Homo sapiens: one gene and its partners. The protein of the gene in region 3 purifies or fractionates together with the protein of the main gene of each other region. This does not show direct contact. Each region holds a gene or a part of one and is shown on either strand. Other genes may lie near its edges. The genes, in order: BRIP1, ERCC5, SPTA1 and XRCC2.

What was found.
Region 1: the proteins of SPTA1 (region 3) and BRIP1 purify together in Homo sapiens (affinity purification with western blotting; one study listed by BioGRID). This does not show direct contact.
Region 2: the proteins of SPTA1 (region 3) and ERCC5 purify together in Homo sapiens (affinity purification with western blotting, with the first as the bait; one study listed by BioGRID). This does not show direct contact.
Region 4: the proteins of SPTA1 (region 3) and XRCC2 purify together in Homo sapiens (affinity purification with western blotting, with the first as the bait; one study listed by BioGRID). This does not show direct contact.

What each region holds. Positions count from the first base shown.
Region 1 is NC_000017.11:61,677,678-61,685,540, forward strand, and holds the end of BRIP1 (Fanconi anemia group J protein), read right to left. Parts: intron 6,464-7,863; coding exon 5,619-6,463; 3' UTR 1,462-5,618; downstream 1-1,461. UniProt on the Homo sapiens protein: DNA-dependent ATPase and 5'-3' DNA helicase required for the maintenance of chromosomal stability. Acts late in the Fanconi anemia pathway, after FANCD2 ubiquitination.
Region 2 is NC_000013.11:102,873,233-102,880,882, forward strand, and holds the end of ERCC5 (DNA excision repair protein ERCC-5), read left to right. Parts: intron 1-26; coding exon 27-111; intron 112-2,074; coding exon 2,075-2,671; 3' UTR 2,672-2,763; downstream 2,764-7,650. Other genes in the region: BIVM-ERCC5 protein, read left to right, coding at 27-111, 2,075-2,671. UniProt on the Homo sapiens protein: Single-stranded structure-specific DNA endonuclease involved in DNA excision repair. Makes the 3'incision in DNA nucleotide excision repair (NER).
Region 3 is NC_000001.11:158,676,664-158,684,581, forward strand, and holds part of SPTA1 (spectrin alpha chain, erythrocytic 1), read right to left. Parts: intron 6,834-7,918; coding exon 6,708-6,833; intron 5,005-6,707; coding exon 4,864-5,004; intron 4,067-4,863; coding exon 3,920-4,066; intron 1,872-3,919; coding exon 1,738-1,871; intron 1,172-1,737; coding exon 1,027-1,171; intron 1-1,026.
Region 4 is NC_000007.14:152,654,724-152,662,641, forward strand, and holds part of XRCC2 (DNA repair protein XRCC2), read right to left. Parts: intron 6,060-7,918; coding exon 5,978-6,059; intron 1-5,977. UniProt on the Homo sapiens protein: Involved in the homologous recombination repair (HRR) pathway of double-stranded DNA, thought to repair chromosomal fragmentation, translocations and deletions. Part of the RAD51 paralog protein complex BCDX2 which acts in the BRCA1-BRCA2-dependent HR pathway.

The DNA of each region.
Region 1 (7,863 bases), on a different chromosome or scaffold from region 3:
CTGGAAACCATCATTCTAAGCAAACTGTCACAAGGACAGAACACCAAACACCCCGTGTTCTCACTCATAGGTGGGAATTGAACAATGAGAACACTTGGACACAGGGTGGGGAACATCACACACTGGGGCCTGTCTGGGGGTGGGGGTCTGGGGGAGGGATAGCTTAGGAGTAATACCTAATGTAAATGATGAGTTGATGGGTGCAGCAAACCAGCATGGCACATGTATACCTATGTAACAAACCTGCACGTTGTGCACATATACCCTAGAACTTAAAGTATAATAAAAATAAATTAATTAAAAAAATAAAAATACAGGAAAAAAAAGAAAAACAGGGAAAATATACGAAGACAATACTGCATCTAAAATAATAACAAACAGTACTAAATACTTTTAAAACTTTTCAACTATATGTGAATCATATATAAAAGATAATGGCACCTAGTTTACAGAAATGGTATGCCTCTTGTACAATTTTGTGTTTTATAATAGCAAGGAGCCAAATCAAACTTTAATATTGAATTCTATAAATATTAATGTAAAATATTTTCATGTGAAATGATGAAATTTTGGGGAAAGCGTTAAGATAATCAAAATAATATAAATTCCCGAATAAAGGAAGACTGAGCCAAGAAAATACAAAGTTATTATAAAATGTACTAAAATATCTATCTAATTATGCCTTGTTACACATTCCTTTTAATCAGTATTTACCATTGGGTTTTCAAAGGTTAATTTCTGGGAACAGTAAATTTCATATAGCTTTTGTTTTCTTTCCAATACATTGACGCTTGTTTATTACAGAGTGGAATTTGGTGTAAGATGGGTTGTTTTGGACCTGGTCCAAGAGGGTTTAGTTACTGAAAGCACCTCATTATAAGGTAGTCTTACCAATAAGGTGATCTGCTGGCTCAGATCCCATGTATATTATAACAAGGCTCCATTGTGGAGTACAGGAAGCCAGGCAGCTAATGGTTCTATCAAATGAAACTTAAGAAACAAAATTCTTTTTTTTTTTTTTTGAGACATGAAAATTGTTTAAGGCTAGAGGATCATAAGCCTTGGTCACTTTTCCAAATTTCTATTTCCTGATGTTCTTTATTGTATTTTTCATAGCTCTGCAGTTATTTTACGTTAAGGTTTTAGCTTTCTTACATTCATTGCTTGATCTGGTCTTAAAATTTTTTTTGATTATCATCAATACTATCTATTTACAAAAGATTAACTGCATTTACCTATGGAAATAGATAATAAACCACCAAGAATTCATAAAGGTTAAATTCTTGTGTAACTCATTGAGAAATCAGCGTTTAAAAGAGCATATGCGAGAATAATTGTGTGGTAATCAAATACAAAAGAATGCCATCACTTAGAGATGACCATGATAACCAGCCTTTCAAGTGATTTGACAACAGGTGCTTTGATTTCATGAAATTTTGTAAGCAGCCCTAAAGAATTAAATATTTTAAATGCGTTTTAATATAGGAAAGTAATACAAAAAAGTCCAGTTGCAGAAAAATAACGGGGAAAAGCTTTTTGTTAAAATTAATGTTTTGAATAGAAAGATCTTAACAACAAAGCCTTATAGAAACTTAGAAACAGTGCCAAATTTAAACCCATGTAATAACTAAGTGCATAGAAACATAGTAATAGTTTTATAACACAATTCTAGACAGTTTTAAATAATTTAATCAAGTCATGAAACATCTACTCTTTACATTGTACCTTTATTCCAAGAATAAAGCCCTGTCTCTAACTGGTAGTTTTCCTGGTTTGCAGCCTGTGTGCTCTATATACTTTCAGTCCTTGAATAAATTCAGTATTAGATAATTATTTCATATGCATTGAATGTGTCACATAAATTATTTGATAAACAATCTCTACCTTATACATCTCAAAAGCTTAAAAAATAAGCCAGCCAAATAATTTTTCTTTCCTCAAATCTTTATTGTCAGTCTATCACCTATATATCTATAGTTAGGGAAGCTTTCATATAGAGCAAGGGTGCACTCCAGATATATGATTCATCTACTAATTAATAATGAATAACTTGCAATGTGCCAGGTGCTCTTTTAAAAGCATTTAGATGTTTTAACTTATTTAAATCTGTAAACATTTCTTTTAAAAGTATGTTATCAGTAATGAAAATGGCCTACATCCTACTCTATAAAGGCCAGTAGTTTACTTCTTGGAATATCATCTTGGTCAGTCATGATCTGAGGAGAATATACACCTGTTTCAACAGTGATTATCATTGTATAAAATTTTTGAAACACCTTTTGGAATTACTAAAGGGTTGTGACACATCTCTATGTACATTCTCAGTAATGAAAATTTTTAACTTCAGGGAGAATTAAATTTTGGAAAGAATAAAAAATATCTAGGCCAGGCATGGTGGCTCACGCCTGTAATCCCAACACTTTGGGAGGCCGAGGTGGGCAGATCACTTGAGGTCAGGAGTTTGAGACCAGCCTGGCCAACATGGTGAAACCCTGTCGATACTTAAAAAAAAAAAAAAAAAAAAATTAGCTGGGTGCAGTGGTGTACACCTGTAATCCCAGCTACGCAGGAGGCTGAGACATGAGAATCGCTTTAACCTGCGAGGCAGAGGTTGCAGTGAGCCAAGATCGTGCCTTTGCACTCCAGCCTGAGCGACAGAGCAAGACTGTCTAAAACAAACAAACAAAAACATATCTAGCTAGGGAAAGGGGAAAGTATTGGAGATGAAGTTGGGTAATAACACTAAGATATGAATAATATGCTTAATTTTCTCATGTAGTTTACCAATTCTAAAGGTAATTTCTTTTTTTTTTTTTTTTTGAGACGGAGTCCCGCTCTGTCGCCCAGGCTGGAGTGCAGTGGCGCAATCTCGGCTCACTGCAAGCTCCACCTCCCGGGTTCACGCCATTCTCCTGCCTCAGCCTCCTGAGTAGCTGGGACTACAGGCGCCCGCCACCACGCCTGGCTAATTTTTTGTATTTTTAGTAGAGACGGGGTTTCACCGTGTTAACCAGGATGGTCTCGATCTCCTGACCTCGTGATCCGCCCGCCTCGGCCTCCCAAAGTGCTGGGATTACAGGCGTGAGCCACCGCGCCTGGCCCTAAAGGTAATTTTAAAAGTCCTCAAAATGTTTTAATTGTAGCATTGCGAAAATAAATATCTAGCTTTCCAAGTTATTATGCACATATACCATCTGTGTCAGTCTGTTCTCATGCTGCTAATAAAGTCATACCCAAGACTGGGTAATTTATAAAGGAAAGAGGTTTAATTGACTCACAGTTCTGCATGACTGAGGAGGCCTCAAGAAACTTACAATCATGGCGGAAGGCAACTTTTCACAGGGCAGCAGGAGAGAAGAATGAGAGTGAAGCAGGGAAAAGCTCCTTATAAAATCATCAGGTCTCATAAGAACTCAGTATCACGAGAACCGCATGAGGGTAACCGCCCCCACGATTCAATTACCTCCCACTGGGTCCTTCCCACAACACGTCGGGATTATGGGAACTACAATTCAAGATGAGATCTGGCTGGGGACATAGCCAAACCACGTCACCATCGTTCCCTAAATGTAAATGAGTAAGAGCCACTTTACTTTTTAAATGAAATAATATGCTTTATTTTAACCGTTCTGGAACAAAAGCAAATGAAAATCGACTCAGAATATCAACAGACATTCCTTTATAGATTCTCAAAGCACAAAGAAATTTGTATGATTTTATAGTACTAACCGCTGCATTTTACAGATGAAACTAATTCCCTGAAGGGTGTGGTGATTGCCAATATGACTTAGCAAATCAGTGGCAGAGCCAGGTGTAGAGCCCAAGTCTCTTGTCTTCTACCAGGTATTTATTCGTTTCACTACCCTACTATCCCTATCTGTGGTTTAAGAATAATACCAGAGGAGATAAATTGTTTCACCCTTTCAAAACAATGTAAAAATTACCTTCTAATCGAGTATTTGGTATTTACTGCTCAATGATCAACTAGAAAAAATATATAATACTAGATGGGATCTAATATATTCTAAATTCTTTAACTGGTAACTTGTCAATTTAAATGTCTTTGAACTACGCTTAGAGTTGTAACATCAAATGCTATAGAAACAGGCTGTAAAAATCTAAATGTCTCAAAATGGAAGCAAAGACATACCTATATAATGATTCATTTATCCAAATGAAATGTAAAGTAAATCCTTACTGGAAATTTTGACTTGAAAATAATAGACCATACAGAATTCTTGGATAGCTCATAAAATTTCAATTCAAATTACTCACAAAAAGTCCCAATGCCCAGTGAATAACAGATGTTTCTTAAAAAGAGATCAATGAATGTATTTTTGGAATGATGTCAGAGATGAGCCTCTTTTATAATCATTTTTGATTAGACATATAGCTTCATTCACAAAAACACAAACAAGGTCAAAATTCACAGAAAGGATTACTGTGCCCTAAGGAAACATATTTTAGCTGCAGCTATAAATGTGGGTTTGCTTATCAAATTTATATATGAAGTTTTCTATCTTAATCATTGTATAACTAAAGCTTATGCTAGAACAATACCAGAGGGGATAAATTGTTTCACCCTTTCTAAACAATGTAGAAATTACCTTCTAGTCTAGTGTTTGGTACTTATTACTCACTGATCCACTAGGAAAAATATATAATACTAAGCAGGATCTAGTATTTTTTTCCACAATGATGGTGAAGCTAAATAATTAGAATAGAAAATTTGGAATACTTCATTTGGCATTTTATATCTTTACGTCAATTTGTTTATGACATGTTTGGTTTTAGGTTTATTATACAAAGAATGTAAAACAATTTCAATTAAAAATGCATACTACTTTCTTAATTTCTCTTAATTACTTATAAGTAGGCAGTTTAATAACGAAATAAACCTTTCAAGACAAATGGTGATCTCTGAAAAAGTCTTGGACTGATTTGAGGTAAAATCTATAGCGAAATATGACTGAGGTGTCACTAGATTAGACTGCTGTTAATTTTTATGTATCAGTGTGAAAACAAATGGATGAAGAGAACCACCTAATATGAATATTTACGTGAAACTAGAAGTGCCCTAGGATCTTTGAATAATTTTAAATTGCATTTAGCTAAGGAAGACTTATTTGAGGACAGTACTTTGTATGAATTACTTTATCAAAACTCAAGAATGGGCCAGGCACTGTGGCTCACACCTGTAATCCCAGCAACTTAGGGAGGCAGAGAAGGGCAGATCACGAGGCCAGGAGTTCGAGACCAGCCTGGCCAACATGGTGAAACCCCATCTCTACTAAAAATACAAAAACTAGCTGGGCATGGTGGTGCACACCTGTAGTCCCAGCTACTCAGAAGGCTGAGGCAGGAGAATCACTTGAACCTGGAGGTGAAGGTTGCAGTGAGCCCAGAGCACACCACTGCATTCCAGCCTGGGCAACAGACCAAGACTCTGTCTCAAAAAAAAAAACCCAAAAACTCAAGAATAATAACATTTACATTTCTGAACATAAAATAGTTTTTTAAAAAGTATGCCACTTATTCAATTTACAAATTATTACTTACAACAGAGTTTAACATAAGCATGATGACATATTTTTACTTAGCTTGAGAGTTAAGTATTATTACTTAAAACCAGGAAACATGCCTTTATTTTTGGAAGGAGATGGTTTAAAGTTCTTTATTTCTATTTCATGAGTTTTTCCCAGTTCCAGTTCATTTATCCAAGTTGTTTTTACATTACCATCAATGTCATCAATTTTACTTTCTTCAATATGCAGAATTCCATTCAACTTTGTATCTATGCAATCCTCAGCTTTCACTTCTCTGGCTGAATCTACTTCTTTTATAGTTCTAATTTCAAAAAGGTCTTTAGCTAAAATGCAATCTGAATTGTTAGCCAATCTATTTCCTCTATCAGTTTCAGCTAGGTCATTTTTTTCTTCATCTGTATCTTCAGGATCATAAAGTTCAGGTGTAAAATAGATAGATTCATCTTCTGCTTCTGTTTCAAAATCTCTATTTGAAGTGGACTGTTTATCTTCTTCACTTACTAGAGACAATTCAATGTCTGGATCCAGGGCTTCTTCAGAACAGAGCGGATGTTCAGAATGATTTTTTCTAGTAAGGGTGGCATCAATCTTTAATGATGAAATAATGGTTTCTGATTGAGGGCATGATCCAAACGATGTGTTTACTGTCAGATTTGAGGATTCACATTTATCAGTGAAGGGCAAAACAGTTTTACTTTCCATCTTCTCTGTTTTGAAACGGGGAGGACTAGAGGCACTATTCTCTGATGACCCGAGCTCAGGTGTTGCCTTCGGTATTTTACCAGTAAAATACTGTCCCAAAGAATTAAAGCTTGACCAGCTAACTCTCTTTGTTTGTTTGTTGAAAGTTGGGCTTGTGGATCTGGAAATCACAATTTTTTCTGCTTTCCCTGCTTCTTCCAGGAATACTGGATCATCTAAGAATACAAGAATTTAAGAGATTTAACTTTCTGCTCCTAGCTAACATAATTGCTAGGTTAAAATAATTATTTATTAGAAATACCTAAATAACTGTATAGGATACATAACTTAGAGCCCCCAACGAATACTAGTGGATTTTCATCTTGGAACAGAATATTAACTCTGAAAGAAATCTTAGGTCTCTAATGTTTCCTAGCCCAAGTTATAATGCTGTCTGGTAAACTATCAAATTCCACAGCAGGGAGCTCAAGAATGAATGAGGAAAGAAGGGGTAAAAGGGAAGAGGAAGGGAGCTGAGGAAAGGAGGGAACAGGCTGTAAACATTTGCCTTGAAAATCCACTAACCAGTGACTGAGAAAAACTTACCTAGACTAATTCTTTTATTTAATAAATAAGGAAAGTGACATAAGGCTAAGTTATTTGCTCAAAGTTATAAAACTGGTTAGTAAGAAGACCAAGACTAGAAACTAGGTTTCCTGATTACCAAGTTAATCGGCTTGAATTCACTATTTATAGTGAATTTTGTATTACTATTTTGTAGTATTTATATACAAAATTGTATTACTATTTTGTAGTACTTATATACTACAAAATACATGTTTAAAAATTGATGTTTTTCTTTTTTTTAGTCCGAGTTTTGCTTTTGTTGCCCAGGCTGGAGTGCAATGGCGCAATCCTGGCTCACTGCAACCTCCACCTCCCAGTTCAAGCAATTCTCCTGCCTCAGCCTCCTGAGTAGCTGGGATTACAGACAGCTGCCTCCACACCCAGCTAATTTTTGTATTTTTTTAGTAGAGACGGTGTTTCACCACACTGGTCAGGCTGGTCTCGGACTCCTGACCTCGGATGATCCACCCGCCTTGGATATATGAATTAAAACAACTGAAATTATATCCAATGGAATAGACCAGAGTTTGGCAAACCTTTTCTGTCATAGGCCAGATAGTAATATTTAGGCTTTGTGGAGCATAATGTATCTGTTGCGACTACTCAATTATGCTGTTCTAGTGCAATACACACAAATACTCAACTCTGCTGTTGTTTCTAAAATGTAAATAAATGGGCATGACTACATTTCATTAAACTTTATTTACAAAAACAGGCAGCAGGCCAAATTTGGCCCATGGGCCACAGTTTGCCAATCTGATACAGATGATTATTTCAAAATATTTTAAAATATTATTTTTCATCACTTAAAATAAATGTCTCTCACCTCCTAAAAATAAGTTCATAAGAACTATCTATATAGGAAAAGTAGTTCATATAGAAGTATCTACATAAAAATTAGGCCAAATTTTTATATAGCCTTTAGAATAACATCTACCACTTACATGGTACTTTACAATGCTGTGATATTTATAATTTTGACCTTTACAACCCAACCTGAAGGGATAGC
Region 2 (7,650 bases), on a different chromosome or scaffold from region 3:
TATTTATAAGTCTTAACTGCATGCATATTTTGTCAGCGGTATTTCGGCTGGAACAGAACGAAGACAGATGAATCTCTGTTTCCTGTATTAAAGCAACTCGATGCCCAGCAGGTAATCATGGTGGACCCTTCTCCTAAGTTCAGGATGAAGGGTAGGCTGTGGTTGACAGCTGTTAAAGACCAGTTAACTCTTATTTTGGGGCATAGAGCAGACATTTTGAAATTAGGATAATTTAGATGAGAGAATAGAAGAAAATAGAAAAAGAAAAGTTAGACTTTGGCTTCATTTTCTATGATCACTCTTAGGGCTGAACTTTGGAGTCCTTTCATATTCATTTTTTTCTTTGAAAAAACCAGTCTAATAACTGATTTCACACTAAGGTGTTTCTGATTAAATACATTACCCCTTGGGATTTACTTTCATTTTTTAACGAAAGGAAGTCTTCAAAGCAATTCTGATCATTTAAGTTTTTATAAGTACTAATATTTTTAAATTCTATAAACGAATCTTGAAAGGTAGAAGTTCAGTCATTATTGTGTATCAGTAGGAGAGGTTTTTGTGGGAAGGAGCCCTTTTGTATGACCTTTAGTTCCTCTAGGTACCTACTTCTTGCTTTATCTGTGAGTATGTTCTGACTCACACAAAACAAGCTTTCGCCCACACTAGAAACAACCCACAAAACATACATACAAATAAACCACTTAGCAGAAATGAGAATGTAGCTTTTGTGATAATATATTTAAATTAAACCCATTTTCATTAGGCTTGGATAATTTTGAAAAACATGAACAAAACTAAGACAGCATTTCTATGAGTTTCTCTTTGTTTTTTGGATGACTATCTACTGGAAACATTATAAACCAACCAAAAAGGAAAGCTATTTGTCTTAGTGTCTGGTGATTTCTTAATTTCAGATAAATTTTGTTGTAATATTTATCTCCTTTTTCATTCTAAAACTTAATGTGTTTATTTTTCCAAAATTAGAAAATGAAGAAAATGAATTAAAACTACTCATTAGTTACCTCCTCTAATACAGTTGTTAACATTTAGGTTAAAAAATTTTCCTGCATTTATTTGTGGCCATACTAAATGTAACTTAATAGATCTAATCCTCCCCCCCAACTTATTAGCATATTTTCTTCTATGTATTGTGTGGTTTTCTTAATTCCAGATGACTAGATTATATTTCATGAAAGATATTTAAATAATTAGTTCAGTTTACTTGTTAGACCTTTAATTTTCAAGTTTGTTATAGTAATGCTGTGATGAACATTAGGCATATAGCTTTACCCATATATTTTTTTTTTGAGACGGAGTCTCACTCTGTCTCCCAGGCTGGAGTGCAGTGGTGAGAACTCGGCTCACTGCAAGCTCCGCCTCCCGGGTTCACGCCATTCTCCTGCCTCAGCCTCCCGAGTAGCTGGGACTACAGGCGCCCGCCACCACGCCTGGCTAATGTTTTGTATTTTTTTAGTAGAGACGGGGTTTCACCGTGTAAGCCAGAATGGTCTCGATCTGACCTCGTGATCCACCCACCTCGGCCTCCCAGAGTGCTGGGGTTACAGGCGTGAGCCACCATGCCCGGCCAAAGAATATCTTCTTAAAAGTGAATTTACTGAATAAAAGGCATGAATATTTCTTACAGTTGCTAATATATACTGTGAACTTGCCTCTCAAAGGTATTGTATGATGATAATGTTTTTAAAAGAAAGATATAGTAGGACTTAGAAACAGGCCCCATGAAGTCGTGTTGCTCCTGAGGAAGATGAAATGTTTAGCTACAGAAAAATATTTAACGCTCTTTGAATATCTTAGGAAGAGATTTCTCATTTGAGATGTGGACTAAAGACTTAGTTGACAGAGATGGTACAAGTACTGCTTTAGGTATGATTTAGAAAGTGAAAATTACTGTCAGTAATTCACTGGGAGAGAACTGGGTTTTGGGAGATAATGAATTAATATTCTCTGACATAGTAATCCAATGTGAGTGATCAAGGTTGAGCTTGTTGATTTGGTTTAGAAACTTGACTTACTTGTCTGATTTATTATTATTATTCTTTTGTTATTTTTTTAGACACAGCTCCGAATTGATTCCTTCTTTAGATTAGCACAACAGGAGAAAGAAGATGCTAAACGTATTAAGAGCCAGAGACTAAACAGAGCTGTGACATGTATGCTAAGGAAAGAGAAAGAAGCAGCAGCCAGCGAAATAGAAGCAGTTTCTGTTGCCATGGAGAAAGAATTTGAGCTACTTGATAAGGCAAAAGGAAAAACCCAGAAGAGAGGCATAACAAATACCTTAGAAGAGTCATCAAGCCTGAAAAGAAAGAGGCTTTCAGATTCTAAAGGAAAGAATACATGCGGTGGATTTTTGGGGGAGACCTGCCTCTCAGAATCATCTGATGGATCTTCAAGTGAAGATGCTGAAAGTTCATCTTTAATGAATGTACAAAGGAGAACAGCTGCGAAAGAGCCAAAAACCAGTGCTTCAGATTCGCAGAACTCAGTGAAGGAAGCTCCCGTGAAGAATGGAGGTGCGACCACCAGCAGCTCTAGTGATAGTGATGACGATGGAGGGAAAGAGAAGATGGTCCTCGTGACCGCCAGATCTGTGTTTGGGAAGAAAAGAAGGAAACTAAGACGTGCGAGGGGAAGAAAAAGGAAAACCTAATTAAAAAATATGTATCCTCTATAATTAGTTATGACAGCCATTTGTAATGAATTTGTCGCAAAGACGTAATAAAATTAACTGGTGGCACGGTCTTTGTATTTAGTGTGTGGTTCCTAAAAACAAATGCTAAATCTGACATTTGTTTTTTAATGTTTTACTTTTCTAGTATTTTTTAGCTGAATATTTCAAGTATCATTGGATATTATCTTGTATTCACAGGCTTTGTCTTTTCATGTTTTCATTATCTTAACAATGTCTGATCCTTCCTGGTCACATGTTAAAAAAGCGAAAAAGATTTCTATTGATCAGCACTCACTCTCAATAGGCTTTCCCTCTGACATTCAGACGTAGCTGAGAAGAAATACGTGCATGTTTCTAATTCCACAATAGTGGCAGTTTTACACAACTGTTTAGCCCTGCTGCCCACGGCTTTGCATTTTCCCTCAGGTTCCACTTAAAAGCATAGCAGGAGGGAGCCTCACTGCTGGAACATATTTCAATATGTTTGCTGTGGTTTTAGCAAACAATTAGGAAACCTAAATGGGGTGCATCATTCTACCTGTGAACATTAAGTGTATGGGAACCTCTGTACCGTTATGTTTGGCTTTTAAACCAGACTTCACTTATTAGAAGCTGACTTCTGTGTAAATGGATTTGGAGGCTGGGGGCTGGAGTTGAACTGGTGTAGGTGGGTCAGCTTTAGGAGTGGCCTGCAGGGGATGATTGTTGTTGACACAGTGTTTGTTCAGAGTGGACAAAGAAGGTTATTTTAAGACTGCTCCTGTGGAGACGTCTCCCAAGAACAACCCCCAAGCTCCTATTTGCTTCGAGTTAAGAATGATTGGAGGAGAGTACTACCAATTACTTTGAGCGTGGGTCCTCTGCCTTCAGAGCTACCTTCCCAAGTCTGTGTCCTTTTGGCATCTTTAGTATTTCCATCTTTCCTGACTTTTTCCTTCAGCCTTCAAATTGAAAATCTTCACCAATGAAAACAAAATCCAAATAGATAATCTCCAGCAGTCTTTGAACGACTCCTAGATGTGTTGTTTTTTAGGCTCTCATTTATATTGACTTGGCCAGCCAAACTTCTCCAGTACTTGGACTACAGCAGCTGCTTTTCTTTGCACACTATTTTTTCCTAATTTCAAATACGTCTTCTGCATCCATCATTCTTCTCTAGCAGCTCCTTCTAAAGTCAACAATGATTTCCACATAAACTCAAATCTTTTCTTCATGCTTCTTTTCTCTGGAGGTACTTGGAGCAGAACATTTTTGGAGGCAAGGGGAGGGGAAAATTAACTTTTTCGTGTTTTTCTCATTTCTCAGAATTACTTGTCACTGGGAGTTTTCTGCATATATATTTGCAGGTAGAATAATTGTCTTGCTAACAAATTTAATTTGATGCCTTTAATAGATATTTACATTTGTTTTTCACTGCGTTAGCTTTGGGAAAGGATAAGCTACTGTAACAAAAGATGCTCATATACAGTGGTCTGAATAAGCTAGAACATTACTTCTCTCTTACTCAACAGTCTGGCCAGTCTGAGCTGGTGAAGCAGTTGTGCACCATGAGGTCATGCAGTCCTGTGTTCAGCCAACCCCTAGGGTGCTATCTTGCCTGAGTGGTCTATACTGGGTGATTACTTCATCTGCATTGCATCCTGCCAGAAGGGGAAAGAACCAAAGTCCAGGGCAAGCAGAAGGGGAAATGGATGGTCAGGACCATGAGAAACCTGTTCTGTAACACTATTTATATGAGAGTTTGATATTGTATCTTCTTTTTCTCTTAACCCTGTGACCAAGACATAATGCTTTTACAAGGGGAGAAACACGTTTAGAGACATTAACCAGTTTTGCCAAATTCACCCATGTAGTAGGTAAAACTTCTCACCTGAACCAAAATCTTCTAACTCAAAATTCCAGGGTGCTATTTTACCTATGAAAGAGGTTGCCTGTTTAAAATAATCAGCAGCTGAACAAATTCTTTATTATTCACATCAAGTTGGTGTACCTAGAGCTTATTTAGGATGATGACCATCATACGCCTTTTCGATTATCTTCCAGCTCATTAATATTTTGTTTAGCTTTATCTATACTTGCTGTTAAACCCATATATTGAGTATTTTATTTCATTGATTGTTATTTTTCAGTTTTATTTGACTCTTTTTTTTTTTCAATTTGACTCATTTTTATAGATTCCAGTTCCCTGGTGTACTTCTTGTCATCTGTTTTTGAGTATCTTAATCACAGTTACTTTAAAGTCTGTCGAATAACTCCAATATCTAAGTCACCTATGAGTTTATTTCTATTGTCTGTTTCTTGGTATGCATGGGTAAATTTTAACTGAATGTTGGACAGTCTATGGGAAAAATTATAGGTACCCTGTACCTTCCTCTAGAGAGGATTCCAGAATGTATTTGGACAGGCAGCAGAGGGGAAGATCACCTCAGTGCAGCCAGCGAGGACAAAGTAGATTGAAGGCTAGTTTGCAGTTTTTTCTGTAAGACTCCAGCTTCTAGTTTCACCCGTATTCCAGGAAAGTCACTTTCCAGGAGTGCCCTGATGTTTCTTCTTTTGCGCTTGGATCTGCTTTTGCCACTGAATGCTTCAAAAATTAGCCTCTTGCCCTAAACAGCTTAATCAGTCAATTCTTCGACTGAATAGTCAGCACTAAGCGTCAGGCTTCTCTCTCCCTTTTTTCTGGGATCTTGGGCCCACAAATCTGACTGTCTTGGCAGCCACACTCTTCTTTTGTCTCCACAGTTCTGTGAGATTGCCTGATGCTCCGCTGCTATCCTTACATGCGGTCTTCTCTTTGGCTTCCTCAGGAAACAGCAATGCCTGGAATTCTTGGCTGCCTTGACAGCTCTCTGATACTTTATAACAGAGGCATGTTTGTGTGGGGTGTGTGTGTGTGTTTAAAAATCTATTTTTCTCATTGTTAATAGAAGCTGAGGTTTGCTATAAGCTACTTACAGCTGGAGGCAGAAGTCTGTATGTATTTGTTAAACAGTCATGTTGGTTAAGATGCTTGATTGAGGGATTCTGCCTCTTAAGAGATCTAACAGTGAGGATTGCATGATCTTTCAAAAAAATCCTTAAAAAAGACAATGGTTTTTATTCGTCATTTATTTTGTTTTTAAAAAAGCCCCAAAGAAAGAGTATCCTCTGCCCCAAGTTAACTGCCTATGAATAATAGTTCACATTGCTTAGGATTTTGAACTTTCCAGAATGTTTTTACCTATAATATTCACCCCACAAATATATGTTGTATGACTTTTGTATCATTTTTAAAAGACATTTATATTTTTTTGAGATAGGGTCTTGCTCTGCTACCCAGGCGGGAGTTTGGTGGTGTGACCACGGCTCACTGCAGCCTCCATTTCCTGGGCTGAGTGGTCCTCCTGCCTTGGTCTCCCAAAGGCTAAGGCACCCTGCCGATATATACTTGTTCTATAGATGATGAAACCAAGAAACATACTAAGTAAATGGCTTAAAATCACAATCTAATTATAGGCAGGAATAACTAAAATCAGGCTTCCCAACTCCTAGCCCTTTCCAATACATTAAAGTGACCTCGATTCATCTGTGTATACATTATGGACCTGTAGTCACACTCCTAAGTTTAACTTTCCAATATTGCTTTATCTTAACTCTGTAACTTTCTATCAGGGATCTTTCCAGTGGCATGGGAAATGTGTATGTCCTCTGAGAGGCACACATACATGCACTTGGGCAGGTGCACAGATGGATCTATGTTCGGAGCCTGCCCATTCAGTCTGAATAAAAAGGAATCATGGTAGTTTGATTTCTGGGTGCAGAGCAATGCTACAGACATTCTAGTATGGTTGTTGGAGTCTAAAGACAGTGTTCCCATGCAGATAGGTGACATGAAAAATATGTAGCGTTCATTTCCTAGAATGTCATAGCCACGGAGTCTTAGAATAACTCTTGGCATCCAAGTTAAAAGCTGGATCACTTCCTCCAAATAGTCTTCACTCACTTCCGGGAGTGGGTTGTATTCACCTTTAGCTCTGTTCACGAGACACTCGTGGGATATTCCTAGCCTTCTGCCCCCTTAGTTACGGGCATTGCCGTCTCACTGCTGTATAACCAGAGGCGTGGGAGCTGCAGCTGTCAGAATCCTAATCCCTTCTGCCTGGACTCGTTACCAGTGGTAGCGAGTGTGTATAGTAGTAAACTGTGCTGCGATGCTAGCCTTTCAGTCACTACCAGAGGTCCCAGCAGCAAAAACAAAAATTGTGGATGATACATTTTAACCTTCTAGAAACTCAGCTAACTCCTTTAGGTATGTCCAGGCTTTCCATTTAAATATCAGCCTTAAGGCAGACATGTCTTTCTTTAATGGAAGAGATCTAAATTGGGAGCAAAACATGTGACCACTTTTGCTATCGTTTTAGCTGTGTAGCCTCAATGACATAATTTAACCTTGGTTTTCCTGATTTGCAAACTGTAGGGAAAATAATGTCTTCTAACTTGCTGAAGTATGCTGTAAAAGAAAATGTGGTGGCTGTAAAATGTGCTTTGGGATTCTCGGAAGAAAGGAGTGCTATATTAATTCATGGTACTGCAATTGTTATTTTACCCCAGATTGAGAAGTAAAATATCAAATCGTTATTTTCTAAAGTTTGAATAACTGTTAAATTTATTCAGATAATCTGCTCTATTCAAGAGGCATAAATAGTTTCTTCAGTTTTAAATATATCGGCTGTGATGGTATGGACTCCTTAAGGTAGACGCTGCTCAAAAGATTATCTGGCAATGAGGCTGTTTGACATTGCATAGGTGCTAATGATGCATTGATGGTAACAAGTGAACTTTCAATGTTTTAATCGCCTCTTAAATTTTAGGATTGCAGTCTTACTAGTCAATATGAAGATGATGCCTTTCTTTGTTACAACTGAGGTAGTCTCTGGTGAAGAATATGTTTTCTTTCTGTAGTAGCTTTTTAAAATTTC
Region 3 (7,918 bases):
TTCCCCACCCCTCTATAACATTTCCCTAAATATTACTGTGGGAGGCAGAAAGACATTTCTGTCCACAAGGCCAAGAAAATTTCAGTAATGCTGGATAATTTTCAGCACAACCTCTGAGGAGCAGGGTTACTAGGGCAAAATGTGGATATGGGTGGGTTTTCACATGTTATTAGCCCTTTCATCATACTCAACTATAATCAGATGATGTCTAGGGATTGGAATTTCCATACCATTATTTGTCAACTTATGGGTTTTATTATTCATTATTAGGGAAAAAGACCAAAAACAACAACAACAACAAAAAGGAAGAATGAAAGAAAAAGTAGAATGGTGGAAGTTTGCAGAAACTGGACACAGGGACAGGCCTAAAATTAAATTACAGCAAATGTGGATCTTTCTGTGGGCTGACTCCCCTGTGCACTCTCAGTAGTAATTGGTTTACGTTCTGGCTACATTTGTGAGGGGAAGAAGTAAAGGATGGAAATCATTTAAGAAAATAGGCTTGTTCTAAGTTCTAGTGTGCCTGAGGTTTTCCAGGTTTTAAAAGGAAACCTAAAGGTAGGTTTAGCATTAAGTGTCTTGAAGTTTATTTTAAAAGGAGAAGACAATGTTTTTCTGATCTACTGAGTACAAAAAGAATCAGGATTCAGCTGCAACAGAACAAAATGTGGTTAGATGAAAGGGTAGAGTCTGGCCACGGTGTATTTTACTCAGTGAGATTAGGAATCAACCTTGAAGGTATATTTGTTTTGTTTTTAAATTGTGAAATAAGTTAGGAAAACACAAGAGAATATAAAACATATGTGTATATTTAAATAAAAATAATTCAAATGAAAATAAGGTATATCCAGTATCCACATACGAGTTATGAACTAGAATGAAGAAGCGTATTCAAGTGCACACAATTTCTTCTTCATTGAAAACAGTGAACTTATTGTGCTCTCTGGAGGCACGGTAATAGGCAAGATAATCAACAATTGCCTCTTCTAGCTCAACGGGTTAGCCATTTCTCTAACAGCGCATTACCTTGTCACTCATGACAGCAAGATTTCTCTCAAGTCCCTTGTGACTGTGAAACAGTCCTTCAGAGGCAACAAGGTCTTTGCCATAGTCCTCAGAGGTGAGTACAGGTTCCTTCTCCTTGATCCACTGGATGGCTTCAGTCACATCCCTGCAGTCATTAACAAGAGCTCCAACCAAAGAAGATAGCAAGCATTACAGGGCAAACGGTCCAACAGAACTCACAGCAAGGACCATCCTAGTTGACCCAGGAGCAATTATCCTTTCTTCCTACATACTAGCAAAAAGTAATATAAAATGTTCTTACTTAATGGTTATTTCTATTGAGATGTTAAGGTCCTGGGCTTCTTGACAGCTGAGCCTCTAGAGATATGTTCCATATCTGGGTCAGCTCCTTACGAATGCTTTTCTTCTTCCTAACTCCACCTTCCATTTAATTATTAACCTGCTTCCCTTCCGTCTGCAGCGCTTCCATTCCTAAATTACCAATGCTACTTTTTTAGTTATTTTGATCTCCAATCTCTACATCCTTGGCCATAGAGTAGGTCACAGATTTCTTTACCTTCTCCTTTGCTGTCCCAAAGGCAAGTACATGATCCACTTTTGTTTGAAGTGTTGACCATTAATTGCTAACAGAAGTAGAAAGAGCCTAATACAAAGACACGGTTTTTATAAAGCACTTCAAAGTTTTCTATAAAGCAGTGGCCAGATCCATACCTTTTGAATCGTTGTAAGTTTGCAGCATTGGACAGAGCTTTCTGTCTCTGGAGAGCCAAACCACGAAGGCGCTCCCAGGCAGCATTCACCTCATTTTGCTTAGACTGAATTAAGGGTAGGTCAGGATGGTTTTCCTGTTGAAGGAAAACAACACTGGAGTTATACAGAGATGAGATTATATTTAAAAAATTATTCAAACACTTTTCATTTTACATTAGTTCATACTTTTACAGAAGTGAAAACTGACCATTGTAGCCAGACACTGAACTTCATCATAGCCCTCCTCCCTAGCTCCAACTTGATGCACACTACCAAAACCTAGAAAAACAACCTGCCAGATGTTGCATCTGTGCCCACAGCAGTGGACTAGCCTATTAGCACAGGTTGCCCAGCCCTGATGTTATTTTTAGAGCTCCACCTTGTCAATGCTTGAGATCTCCTTGAAATCCTGGAAACCAAGGAAAAGAAGAGGAAATTCCTTTTATGAAATACAACTTAATTTTCTCAAAGACTAGTGCTGTGGGTCTTAACTTTTTTGTGGTCCTCACACCTTTGAGAATCCAATAAAAGCTATTTTTCTCTTCCCAGAATTATAGACACGTGCTTTCACGTATGATTTTGCATAAAATTTCAGGCATTTTTGCAAACCATCCAAAGTAGTGAGATCTGTGAATACTAGATTAAGCTGGAAGCATCAGTCTATTTTCATACTTTGCAATTTTGAGGCATTCCCATATGCCTAAGTCTCCTTACTCTTCCTGTCCCTGTTTCTCTCCATTTTCATTCCCATTCCCAAGTCTCTCCAGACAGAATTTTCTCCATTCTCCTTCTCAAGTACATGGTTCTTTCTATTACAGCAGTGTAGGCCCCACTCGAGAGCACAGAATATAACCTAGCTGTGTTGGATTTATTCTTTCTATGATAGATTGGAAAAAATCGCATGCTATTTTGCTGCTCATCCCTTCAAAAGGTAGAGTATGTTTCCTCAAGTCTTGGATCTTGGATGGTCTTTAACTTGCTTACTGATAGAAAGTAGCAGAAGTAATTTTCTATGAGTTCCAGCACCTAGGCCTCAAGAAAACTTTCATTTTCTATTCTCACACTCTTGTAACACTGGTATGTAAGAAGCATGGTCTACTGCATGATGAGAGGTCACCCAGAGATCTCCTCAATCCTCCCAAATCATCCTCACCAGGGCCCTAGACATGGGATTGAGGCCACCTTAGATCCTTCACCCCAGCTGAGCCACCTGATCACTTCAGACACATAAAAATGCCAGGTAAGATCAGGAAAACAGCCCAGCAGAGCAGCTCAATCATCTGATTCACAGAGTCATTAACAAGTAAGATGTTAAGTTTGTTGATTGGTTAGACAGTAATAGATAAATGAAAAACTTCCACAGCAAGAGAAAAGTGATGGAGGTAGAAAATTTAGAAACTACTGGAAATATGGCCTGAAAGAAAAATAGGAAAACATAGGTTATTTTTCCTACTCCAGCACTCATTCATTCTGAAGTCTTCTTTTTATTAAGTCAGGAAAATCATTCTCACTATAGAGCTGCAATCATAATGAAACTATAAATGGAAAAGCAAAATATAGCCAACTGTTGGAGTTTATTTATTTTACATCTATATACTTACATATACATGTAAACTTATATATATATACACATCACAAACTTAAGTATTTTCTTAAGTAAATAAAAGTAAAACCGCTTCCTTTCCTTCCTCAATCCTCCGAAATAATCTTGTATAATGATATTACATATGCATATATATGTATAAATAATGATAGCTCAACATTATTTTATATGCTCTGCTACTTTATTTTTGTGTTTTTTCATGAAGAAAGAGTGCCCCATTAACATGAGTAATCAGTGTACTGCATGGTACAGAAGCTACTATATAAATGGCAATAGCTTCACTGCCCATTGTGTATTTAATTTCTCCAAACACACAAAAACACACTCTCTCTTTCTCTCTCAACCCTCCATTTCAATAGACTTGTAAGGGGTGGGTCCAGAGGGGAGAGGAAACTGTTCAGAATATGTTACTCCAGGAACATGCCAACCTCTGTTTTCTCACAATGCCCCATCTCCTTCATATCCATCTACTAATGGCCAGAAGTTATTCTTAAGGATAAGAACCCTTTGCACGGAGTGAATATTTTGCTCCCACCTCACCTCGGCACACTCATTGGCATATTGGTTCACTTCAACAACTCTCCCTTCTTTAGCTACCAGCTCCACTTGGAAGTCTTCAAATTTCTTATGCAGAACTTCGGTGCGCTCCCAGTCTTCACCTAGCTCCACTGATGTCGCTATAGCCTCCTGTAGACACAGAAGTTGATTGAGTTGCCAGCAAACATTTAGGAGTTTCTGTAGGTCAAAAACTCAAAACTCCTGCTTGCATTCCCAGGATAACTCAAATGGAGATACTGGGGGAGACTGGGAGAAGCTCTCCTGGAAAAGGCCAGCAGCAGAAGTATATTTGTTAAGGTAGCACCTTGGCACAAGGGAAAGTGCTCTTTCGGGCAGTTCTTTAGCAAGTTTGTGGCATTACTGGCAAGAGACCCTGAAAGTACCCTTTTGTGTTTTGAAACATGAGGGATAAATTCATCCTGTTTCTACTCAATTCAACATATCAGTATCTACGAAAGTATTTTGTTAGGCATTTGCTTATCTAAATCTTTAGTCCTAACTATTAAATTATTCCTTTAGTATTTAGAAAAATAAAACCCTCCATCTTTATAGGCACTGAGACACAAAGGATTAGAGAAAGAGCTGTCAATACTCTCAGCCAGACCCCAGAGTAAGAGCAAAAACATAGGAGAAGGAGTTAAAAATCATGGAAGTGGAAGAGAGATGAGCCTAATTATCTTTCAATGCATGGTCTTTGTGTAAGTCTTGCCTTTTTCATATTCAGATCCATATGTTAAGACTTACTTCCATACAATGTTGACCTCCAGATACCCCTACATTTTGGCCCCAATTTCCTCTTGTTCCAAAGAACAAAGCCAGGAACAGACATCCTGACTTCCTTGTGAGTAGTCTGCAGTAATTTGCTATGGGGTACCTGGGACAGAGGAGTGGGAGGCCCTGTGTGATTGCTGTTTTAAGTTCGATACCTTGTCTCCAATCCACTCTAAGATGTCAGCACACTCCTGTACATACTGCTGGAACTTCAGGGCCCGCAGCAACTGGTCACCCTTCTCCAGGGTCAGCTCTAACAGCAGGTCCCACAGGTGGCGTAGCTCCTCTATATGGGCCTTTAGGAAAGAGGGGCAAAACCACTCAGCCACAGACACTGGGAGCAGGGAAACACTCAGAGACTTGTGCAGAAAGAGACCTGGATAAAAATTCTTCTCTCAGTTACTCATGCATTAGTTGCTCAACAAACATTTAAAAGAGGAAATAGGATAGATATATGGAAATAGCTAACAAGCCAAGCCAAATGCGATCTTACATAAGAGAACAATTTGTAAAAATGCTTTGCAGTTTTAAAGGATGGAATAATTACAAACAATAAGATGGGAAGGAGGAAGAAAGCATGGAAAAGTGTTCATTTGAACTGAGCCTTATGGAGCAGAAAGATTTTTGACAGGTCAATCATAAGCATAACATGTTCTAAGAAGAGCAAACAGCAATAGCAAAGGCATAGGAGAAACTTAGCATGAATTGTCTGCCAGAAAGTGTGAGAGCTATAATTTTTATAAGTTATAAGGAAATCATTGGCACCGAAACAATAACAGTGTTTTGGGACTATACAGTTTGAGAATCTACAGAGGGCTTTGAATGCCAGATTAACTCAGAACATTATGTATTACCTGTCTTATATAACTGAAATTGCCACCTATGTCATATCTTCAAGAATCTTATATTTTTCAACTACTCCATTGCTCTGGGTAGCATGTGGACCACATATGTCGTTAAACCCCGCAATGGTACCATTTGCTATAGCCCCAGTGATTCTGACAGAAATGAAGATGTTTCAAACATTTCTCAAATATTGTAATTAATGTAGATGCTGGTTACATGCAAAACTGTGCATAATACAAAAGTTAATTATACTTTATACAAATAAACAAGTTTTGAAATTTTCCTTTTATGGGTTCTTCTTTAAAATAAGATTCTATTCTGGCTAAAATCTGTGTCCGTTGACCATATTTTGATGACAGAATGGGCTAGAATTTTTATGCTATATATAGAAAGGCCAGACCCAGTTTTAAGATATATAATGCAAATTTGTTTTGACAATTAAAAAAATACATAAACAGTAAAAAGTTCACTCACACACAAAAAAATTGAATTGACAATATTAGCACAAACATTTGGAAGAGTTCGTAGATTAAGTCCAAAAATAGCTGTTACATTAATAATAGATTACAGAGTATGAATCCTTATTGAAATAGTGATGATCTTCATTTCTAGATGTTCAGAGAAAATTTTCTGACTACATGACATTTGGGAGTTTTTAGAAGTAATAAGAAGGGACAGTTTGGAGAGGTGCAATAGTAGTCATAGGGTATGGTGTATGAAAAGAAAGAGGCATCATAGACAAAGGAAAAATATTTTGGAAAACATTCAAATGAGAGAGCATTCCTTATTTGGAGAAGTTAAGAGACAAGGACATTGAGGTTAGAGGAAATAATTAGAAAGAACATTGGAAAAAACTAATTGATCTGGATAATGTGGAACAGGTTTAAGTGGGCTTGATCTTGAGCCAAATTATCCTGCACTGTTATAGGAGGAATTTTATGCCATTTAATGACAGCTTTAATATCACAGCTCTCTTCACCCCAAGAAACACGAAGATATCCCATCATTTTTTATGCCTCAACCCCAGGGGAAGATAAGAGGCAGGAGTCCTGGGTATAAGCCAGCCACTCAAGGTTTATATCTCATATAATCAGTTAAAACCCTGATAACATAATCAATAATTGGAAACTTCTTCAAGGGCCCATACATATACCTTCGTTTCTTCGTGGGCAGAATGACCCATGGTAAATCGTTCTTCCCTTGTTTTTTCCAGTTCAGACATGAGTCTTGATTTTGTTTGCACCTCTGCTTCAAGGGATTGATGCTTCTGATATTTCCCCTAAAGTTTAGAAATCAGAGTTTTTGTCTAATGAAGCACAGTCTTCATGGGAAATGTTCACTCTATGTAAAGCCACCAAACACAGGTTCTCAAAGGGTCCCAGACTCAGAGGCCATAAAGAGTATTTTCCTGTCCCCACTGGCTTTAGGAAGTTTTCAGTAAATACTGTCCTGAGCTATGCTGAGCCTTATGATCTATGCCGAGCCTTATTTTAAAGGCTCAATAGACTGCCATAGGAATAAAAGAGTGTAACACACAGTGTCCTTCCTCATCAGAAAAGAGGAATAACTGATTTTTTTTTGGAAGTAGAGCACAATGAGAAAGATGATAGTTATAATAATGGTTTTTAAAAAAAAAAATTGAGAGTTTTTTTTGCATGCTGTGCCTGTTCTTGTAATCTATAAATTGATCCATTCAATATAGCACATTATTTTGCTCTTGTTCTAGGTGTTTCCTGTCCAACATCAATTGCTTCTGATTATGACAACACCACATGCTATAATTTTAGGTGAATAGAAAGGGGTAGGCACTTTCACCAAATTTCTTCTACTGAAACCTCTCTTTTGAAGTTAAGAGCCATGAATAGCAATTTAGGGAAGAAAAAAAAAAAACTCTGGTTAACTCATCTCTCTGAGAAGAGTAGAGAACAGGTATCACATGCTATAATTTTAGGTGATCAGAAACGCGTAGGAGCTTTCACCAAACTTCTACTGAAACCTCTCATTAGAACTTGAGACCCATGAACAACATTTTAGGAAAAACTTAAGAGCCATGAATAGCAATTGAGTTAACCAGGTTAACTAAATTGGATTTTAGTTAACCTGGTTAACTCTTATATTTCTGAGAAGAGTGGAGGACAGTTGCTTCAGAAGCATTGATGACTCTTCACCCTATTTCCCTTCTTAATGTCCCAAAATATCAAAAATCACATGGTTTGTCAGAAATTTCTTGAATTTGCAGTTGCTGTTTTGCCTGTAGGTCAATTTCAGATGAGTATTGTAACCATCAAATTCTATACAGAATAAATCTCCTTTGCAAATAACACCCCGATGTTTATGAAGATGAAGACATGGACTATTTAGAGG
Region 4 (7,918 bases), on a different chromosome or scaffold from region 3:
GCAAAGAAGTTGAAGGTTAAATCCCTGCCTAAGAGATACTCTTTTTCTTTTACACATTAATAGCAAAGCAGGTATAAAAAAGGCTTTTATAACAACCGGGAAGACACTGCAAACTTGCAAGAGACACATGAATTATCATTAAGGTCCTTGAACTAAATTCCTCACAAATATGTTTAATGATGAACTGAAATCAGTTTTACTGATTTTATAAACATTTACTGTTTGATCCTCAAGATCAAAACCTGTAATCAAATATTATGTCCTACAGAAGGGACATCATCCTTTTCAATGTACTTGAAGTCACCGTCTCATATGTTTCTGTGGCTGCTACAGCATCCTTGTCCAGCCAAATTATGGAACGTGACAACTCGCAGTAAAAAAATCCCTAAGGTTTGGCACTTGAAGATATTAAACTAAATCAGAAAATCTGGATGATTTGGCCTTGACAGTTCCTCTTACAAATAGAACGCTGTAAGGAGTTTGGGTAACAGATTGTCAGAAAGAGTTCTGAATCTAAAGATCCTTCAAAATAAGGAAAAGAAAGGAAAAGCCAAAAAAGCTATCATCTTGGTACCAGCCTACCAATTATATAACAAATATGTTGAATTTGCAGATTATAATCATTATAGAAGTAAAGAAGTAATGAATTGGTACATGGTACTGAATAACTCCTATCCAAAAAAGCATTAAAAATATGTTTACAGGTTGGGCGTGGTGGTTCACGCCCATAATCCCAGCACTTTGGGAGGCTGAGGTGGGCAGATGGCTTGAGCCCAGGAGTTCAAGACCATCCTGGGCAACATGGCAAAACTCCATCTCTACAAAATACACAAAAATTAGTCTGGTGTGGTGGCACACATCTGTGGTCCCAGCTATTCAGGAGGCAGAGGTGCGAGGATCACCTGAGCCCGGGGGTTGGTCGAGGCTGCAGCGAGCCGTCACGGCGCCACTGCACTCCAGCCTGGGCAACAAGAGTGAGACCCTGTCTCAAAAAGAAAAGTTTGGCACTGGGCACAATGGCTCATGCCTGTAATCTCAGCACTTTGGGAGGCTGACACAGGTGGATCACTTGAGGTCAGGAGTTCAAGACCAGCCTGGCCAACATGTTGGAACCCTGTCTCTACTAAAAATACAAAAAATTTGCTGGGCATGGTAGCATCTGCCTGTAATTCCAGCTATTTGGGAGGCTGAGGTTGCAGTGAGCCGAGATCGAGCTGCACTCCAGCCTGGGTGACAGAGTGAGACTCTGTGTCAAAACAAAACAAAACAAAAATAAAAATAAATGTTTGGATGAGAACACATGGACACAGGGAGGGGAACAACAGACACCGGGGCCTGCTGAAGGCATGAGGGGAGGGAGCGCGTCAGGACAAATAGCCAGGACAAGTAACCTAGGTGATGGGTTGATAGGCGCAGCCAACCACCATGGCACGCGTTTATCTATATAACAAACCTTCACGTTCTACACATGTATCCTAGAATTTAAAATTAAATTAAAATAAATTTTAAAAAATGTTCGGATGGGTGCAGTGGCTCACACCTGTAATCCCAGCATTTTGGGAGGCCAAGGTGGGTGGATTCCCTGAGGTTGGGTGTTCGAGACCAGCCTGGCCAATATGGTGAAACCCCATCTCTACTAAAAATACAGATGAGACAGAGCAAGACTCTATCTCAAAAAAAAAGTTTACAATGGCATTGAGACTCTATAACCCCTAAATCTTACTACTTCAACTTAAGCTTTTCTGTAACAAGCTCTGATAAACTTCTATTGTTGATAAATAATCTTTATAATCCCAGTCTTCTATCTGCTATTGTTCCAATGGAATACTCATCTAACTAGTTTTACAGCTATAGGATCTTCAGTAGTTTTCAGTAAACTTTTTTGTTAGTTACTGAACATGATGGTGTTTTTCAACGTTTCTATAATATAATATTCTAATGTAGAAGTTGTTCCACAAACCCATTTTAACATATTGTCAGTTTCATAAGGCTCACCTTAATAATATCCTTCCTTACAGAGAGAGTACAAAGACCATTCTGTTTTTTGTCTTACATATTTGATCAAAATTTGTGTTTTATTATGGAGAATTTTGGTTAGCAAATCTGCTGTACAAAAAATACTAAAGGGAGTCCTGCAGGCTGAATGAAAGGACACAGTTCCTGAAATCCAAATGAGAAAATAAAGAGCACAGGGAAATGTAACTATCTAGGCAAATATAAAAGACAGTACAGGCCAGGTATGGTGGCTCACCTCTGTAATCCCAACACTTTGGGAGGCCAAGGTGGGCGAATCACCTGAGGTCAGGAGTTCAAGAGCAGCCTGGCCAACGTGGTGAAACCCCGTCTCTACTAAAAACAAAAAATTAGCCAGGTGTGGTAGCACACACCTGTAGTCCCAGGTACTGGGGAGGCTGAGGCAGGAGAATCACTTGAACCCAGGAGGAGGAGGTTGCAGTGAGCCGAGATCACACCACTTCACTCCATCCTGGGCGACAGAGTGAGACTCCATCTAAAAAAAAAAAAAAGATAGTATAAACGTGTTTTTGTATTTGTAACTGTTTTTTCATCTATCTGATTTAAGAAGGAAGTTGTTTTTGCGACAGTCTTGCTCTGTTGCCCAGGCTGGAGTGCAGTGGTGCAATCTCGGCTCACTGCAACCTCTGCCTCCCAGGTCCAAGCAATTCTCCTGTCTCAGCCCCCCGAGTAGCTGGGATTACAGGCACCCGCCATCATGCCCAGCTAATTTTTGTAGAGATGAGGTTTCACCATGTTGGCCAGGCTGGCCTTGAACTTCTGACCTCAGGTGATCCACAGACCTCAGCCTCCCAAAGTGCTGGATTACAGGTGTGAGCCACCGCACCTGGCCAGAAAGTATTCTTAAGTGATCATTTTAATTACTTTAATTCAGTAATAATATTAAATGTGCTGATGACCATACAATGTATAAAGATGTAGGGAATACCTATACAGTAAACAAAGCTTTTTACAAAATATGGAAATTAAGTTTGTATTAATCCAACTAGACTGTTAGAAATTATGATCTTACTTGTAATCCCAGGGCAATCACTAGAAAAATAATTCAGAAAAATATAGTGAAAACAATGACAAGGGAATTAAAATGGTACATTAGAAAATATTTAACACAAAAGAAAACAGTAAAGGAGAAAGAAACAGAAAAGACATAAGACATATATAAAAAACAGACAGCAAAATGCAATCATAAACTTTTTGTCTTTGTTTTTTTTTTTCTTTTTCTTTTTGAGACGGAGTCTTGCTCTGTCACCCAGGCTGGAGTGAAGTGGCGCAATCTCGGCTCATTGCAACTTCCACCTCCCAGGTTCAAGTGATTCTCCTGTCTTGACCTCTCAAGTAGCTGGGATTACAGGCATGAGCCATCACACCTGGGTAATTTTTCTTTTTCTTTTTCTTTTTTTTTTTTGAGGCGGAGTCTCACTCTGTCGCCCAGGCTGGAGTGCAGTGGCACAATCTTGGCTCACTGCAAGCTCACTGAATCCCTCCCGGGTTCATGCCATTCTCCTGCCTCAGCCTCCCGAGTAGCTGGGACTGCAGGCGCCTGCCACCACGCCTGGCTAATTTTTTCTATTTTTAGTAGAGACGGGGTTTCACCATGTCGGCCAGGCTGGTCTCCAACTCCAGACCTCAGGTGATCCACCTACCTTGGCCTCCCAAAGTGCTGGGATTACAGGTGTGAGCCACCGTGCCTGGTCCCTACTTTAACCATTTTTAAGTGTACAGCTCAGCAGTGTGAAGTACATTGACATTGCTGCAAAGCAATGAAGCAGAACTCCACAACTTTTCCATCTTGCAAAACTCCCATTTTGCACCCATTAAACAATGACTCCCTTCCCCCGCCTCCCCAGCTCCTGGTAACTACCATTTTACTTTCTTTTCTGTGAATTTAACTACCTTAGAAACTGCATATAAGTGGAATCAAGCAGTTTGTCTTTTTGTGTCTGGCCTATTTCATTTACCAATGTCCTCAAGGTTCATCCACGTTGTAGCACGTGACAGAATTCTCTTCCTTTGTAAGGCTGAATAATATCAACTGCATGTATATATCACATTTTGTATACACCACTCAACCATTGATGGATACTTTTCCCCCCAGGGATTCATTATAAGCACATTGATGGACATTTAGGTTGGTTTTACCTCTTAGCTATTGTGAATAGTGCTGCTATAAACAAGAGTGTGCAAATATTTCTCCAAGATCCTACTTTCAATTCTTTTGGATGAATACCCAGAAGTGAGATTATGTGATCATATGGTAGCTCTATTTTTAATTGTTTGAGGAACCTCCATACTGTTTTCCATAATGGTCGCACCATTTTACAATCTTACCAACAGTGCAAAAGGGTTACAATTTCTCCACATCCTTGCTAACACTTGCTATTTCCTGTTTTTTTTTTGATAGTAGCCTTCCTAATGGATGTGAGGTGACAAAGAAGAACATTTTATAATGATAAATGGGTCAGCCAGCAATAAGACAAAATAAAAAGTTATATGTGCTTAACAATACATGAAGCCCCAAAATACAAAAGCAAAAAATGATAAAACTCAGGAGAGAAACAGACAATTCAACAATAACAGTTGGATACTTCATTTTTAGTAGAGATGGGGGTTTCACCATATTGGCCAGGCTGGTCTCAAACTCCTGACCTCGTGATCTGCCTGCCTAAGACTCCTAAAGTGCTGGGATTACAGGTGTGAGCCACTGCGCTCGGCTATAACCTGATTTTTTAAATGAGCAAAGGATCTGACGTTTCTTCAAAGATATACAATTTGCCAATAAGCCTGTGCAAAGATACCCAACATCATTGGCCGTGAGGACAATGTAAATCAAAAACCACAAAGAGATAACACTTCATACTGACTAGGATGGCTATTATCAAAAAGACAGACAATAACAATTATTCCCAGAATATGGGAATTGCTGGCAATGCAATGATGGTGCAAGTAAAATGTGAAGCTCCTTTGGAAAACAGTCTGGCAGTTTCTCAAAAGGTTAAATGTAGAATTGCCATATGACCTAGCAATGCCTATCCTAGGTATTATCCGATAGAACTGAAGACATCTATCCACAGAAAAACATGTACACAGATAACCACAGCAGCATTATGCACAACAGCCAGCAAATGGAAACAACCCAAATGTCCATCAGCTAACAAATGGATAAGCAACATGTACACTCATGCAATGAAATATTTAACAAAGAATGAACTACTGATACGTGTTATGAAATGGTGACACTGAATTATACAATTCAGTGCAAATTATTCAAAGTAAAAGAGGCCAGTCACAGAAGATCACATATTACATGATTCCAATTATATGAAATGTCCAGAAAAGGCAAATCCATAGTTAGAAAGTAGATTAGTAGTTGCCTAGAGCTGGGGAACATGGGAGATGATGATTACTAGAAATGAGCTTCTTTACGGGGAGATAAAATGCTCTAAAGTCAGCTGTGGTAACGGTTGCACAACTGTGTAATAACCTAAAAATCACTTAACTGCACACTTCGGTGGGTGAATTTTATCTCTATGAAGCCGCCACATTAAAAGAAAAAAAATCAACCTAAGCGCACGCCCTTAGTAAGTTTTCCCTGTTGTAGAAATACTAACAAGTGGGTACCCAAGGACTTCCCTACAACTCCGCAAGCTTCTAAAGAAAAGGAATTTCAACATAAACTATAATAACAGGACTTGCATAAATATTGTGTGTTGAGAATAAGACAGAGGTCAAGGCATATTCTGAAGATTTACTGCAGAGAAGCAAACTTGTCTGACACCGATGAGGAAAGCTTAAAAGCTTTCTGTCACAACCTGTGTCTCATTTTCCAATTGTACAGTTTAACCTGTATAAACTCTTGTGAGGAGTATGTGTATACATGTGAGCTTATGTGAAAAATCCTTTTATAAAGATTTGCATTTATTTATATAAAGGTTGTATTTTTTACCATGCACAGGTGAATCTTCATCAGCAAACAGATTTGGTTCTATTTCTTTCAAGGAACTTCTACCTTCAAGTCGGGCAAGGAGCTTATAAAAGAAGAGAGAAGGAAAACTCATTATTTAAAAATATAAAATCCTAGACATCTATATTTATACCATTTTCCGAAAGTCTGTAAGATTTCATAACTTTAGGCTGGGTGCTGTGGCTCACACCTGTAATCCCAATACTTTGGGAGGCCAAGGTGGGCAGATCGCTTGAGTCCAGTTTCAGACCAGCCTGGGCGACATGGTGAAACCTGACTCTACAAAAAATACAAAAATTATCTGGGCATGGTGGCACACACTGTAATCCCAGCTACTGAGGAGGCTGAGGTGGGAAGATCACTTGAGTCAAAGAGGCAGAGGTTGCAGCCTGGGTGACAGAGTGAGGCCCTATCTCAAAAAAAATTTTTTTCATAATTTTGTGGATTTGGAAGAAAATATGAAATAGGAAATATAGTTTAGGAGAAATGTTGTGTTTACTTATTTTTCAGATATTTTACTTTTTGTTTATCTACCAAATACTGACAGTATAAAATGAGTCTGTACCCTCAAAGGAATGGATAGTCTAGTTTAGGATATAAGACAAACTGCTATGGCAAAATTTTTACCTTCCTTGTAATTAACTTTCACACAGTTAATTCTTACCACACTTGTTACACAGTTATCTGCCTTCATTTGTCTGCCCCATTCATTGTGAGCTCTTTATTTCACTGGGGAAGGGGACAAAGGAGAAAGGTGGAGGAGAACTTCCTTGAGGAGCCACCACCTGGGCTCTCTCCTAAGTAAGACTGCCAGGTGAATGGGGCACAGGCAGGCCTAGTAGACCTGCTAACAGAAACAGGAGCAGCCACAGTGCAGAGGTTATAAATAGCATTGTGCATAGGGACACTGTGAGCAGCTTTGAACTCCTAGATACTGTAACAGCACCAAACAGGCAGGACCCAGGGAAGCCCTACAAGAGAGCAGAAGTCAGAGCATGGAAGGGCTCAGACGCCATGTTTGGGAGCTTATCTTTGGCTTGTAGACAACAGCCAACAGGTGTGACACTAAGCACTGAGAAGTATTTAGAACATAGTTAAGAGTAGACATTTGGGACCCCAGAGCCAGACCTGCTAGGTCACTGAGGTCCTTAGGCTTCTCATCTGTCAAGTGAGGATAACAAACAGCACCCTCCCTCATAAGGCTGATGAGGATTAAATATGTGAAAAGAGTACCTGGCATATTATCCACTTCTTTTTCTTTTTTGAGGCGGAGTCTTGCCCTGTCGCCCAGGCTGGAGTTCAGTGGTGCGATCTCTGCTCACTGTAACCTCTGCCTTCTGGGCTCAAGTGATTCTCCTGCCTCAGCCTCCTGAGTAGCTGGGATTACAGGCACCCACCACCACGCCCGGCTAATTTTTGTATTTTTAGTAGAGACAAGGTTTCACCATGTTGGGGCAGGCTGGTTTCAAACTCCTGACCTCAAATGATCCGCTCCCATCGGCCTCCCAATCTGCTGGGATTACAGGCGTGAGCCACCGCGCCCAGCCTATCTGCATTTCAAACAGATCATCTTGGTGGTTACTAGGGGACAGATGTGAGGAGAGTTAAAACCATACGTGGAGAGAGGGCTGGGGTTTGTCACCCTAGTCTGGAGGAGGAGTGTCTGCACCATGACGGAAGTCATTAGGATCACAGGGGGCAATCTCGGTGAAGGATTTAACTGTCACAAGGGAGACAAAACTGATTCTCAAGTTTCTTGGGAATCAGCACAGATTTGACAACCCTTCTATATGACAAAAGAAAAAAAAATCTATCACAAATGGGAAGAAAGTCACCTTTTATTTGCATTTTTTTTTTTTTTTTTTTTTTTTTGAGACGGAGTCTCGCTCTGTCGCCCAGGCTGGAGTGCAGTGGCGGGATCTC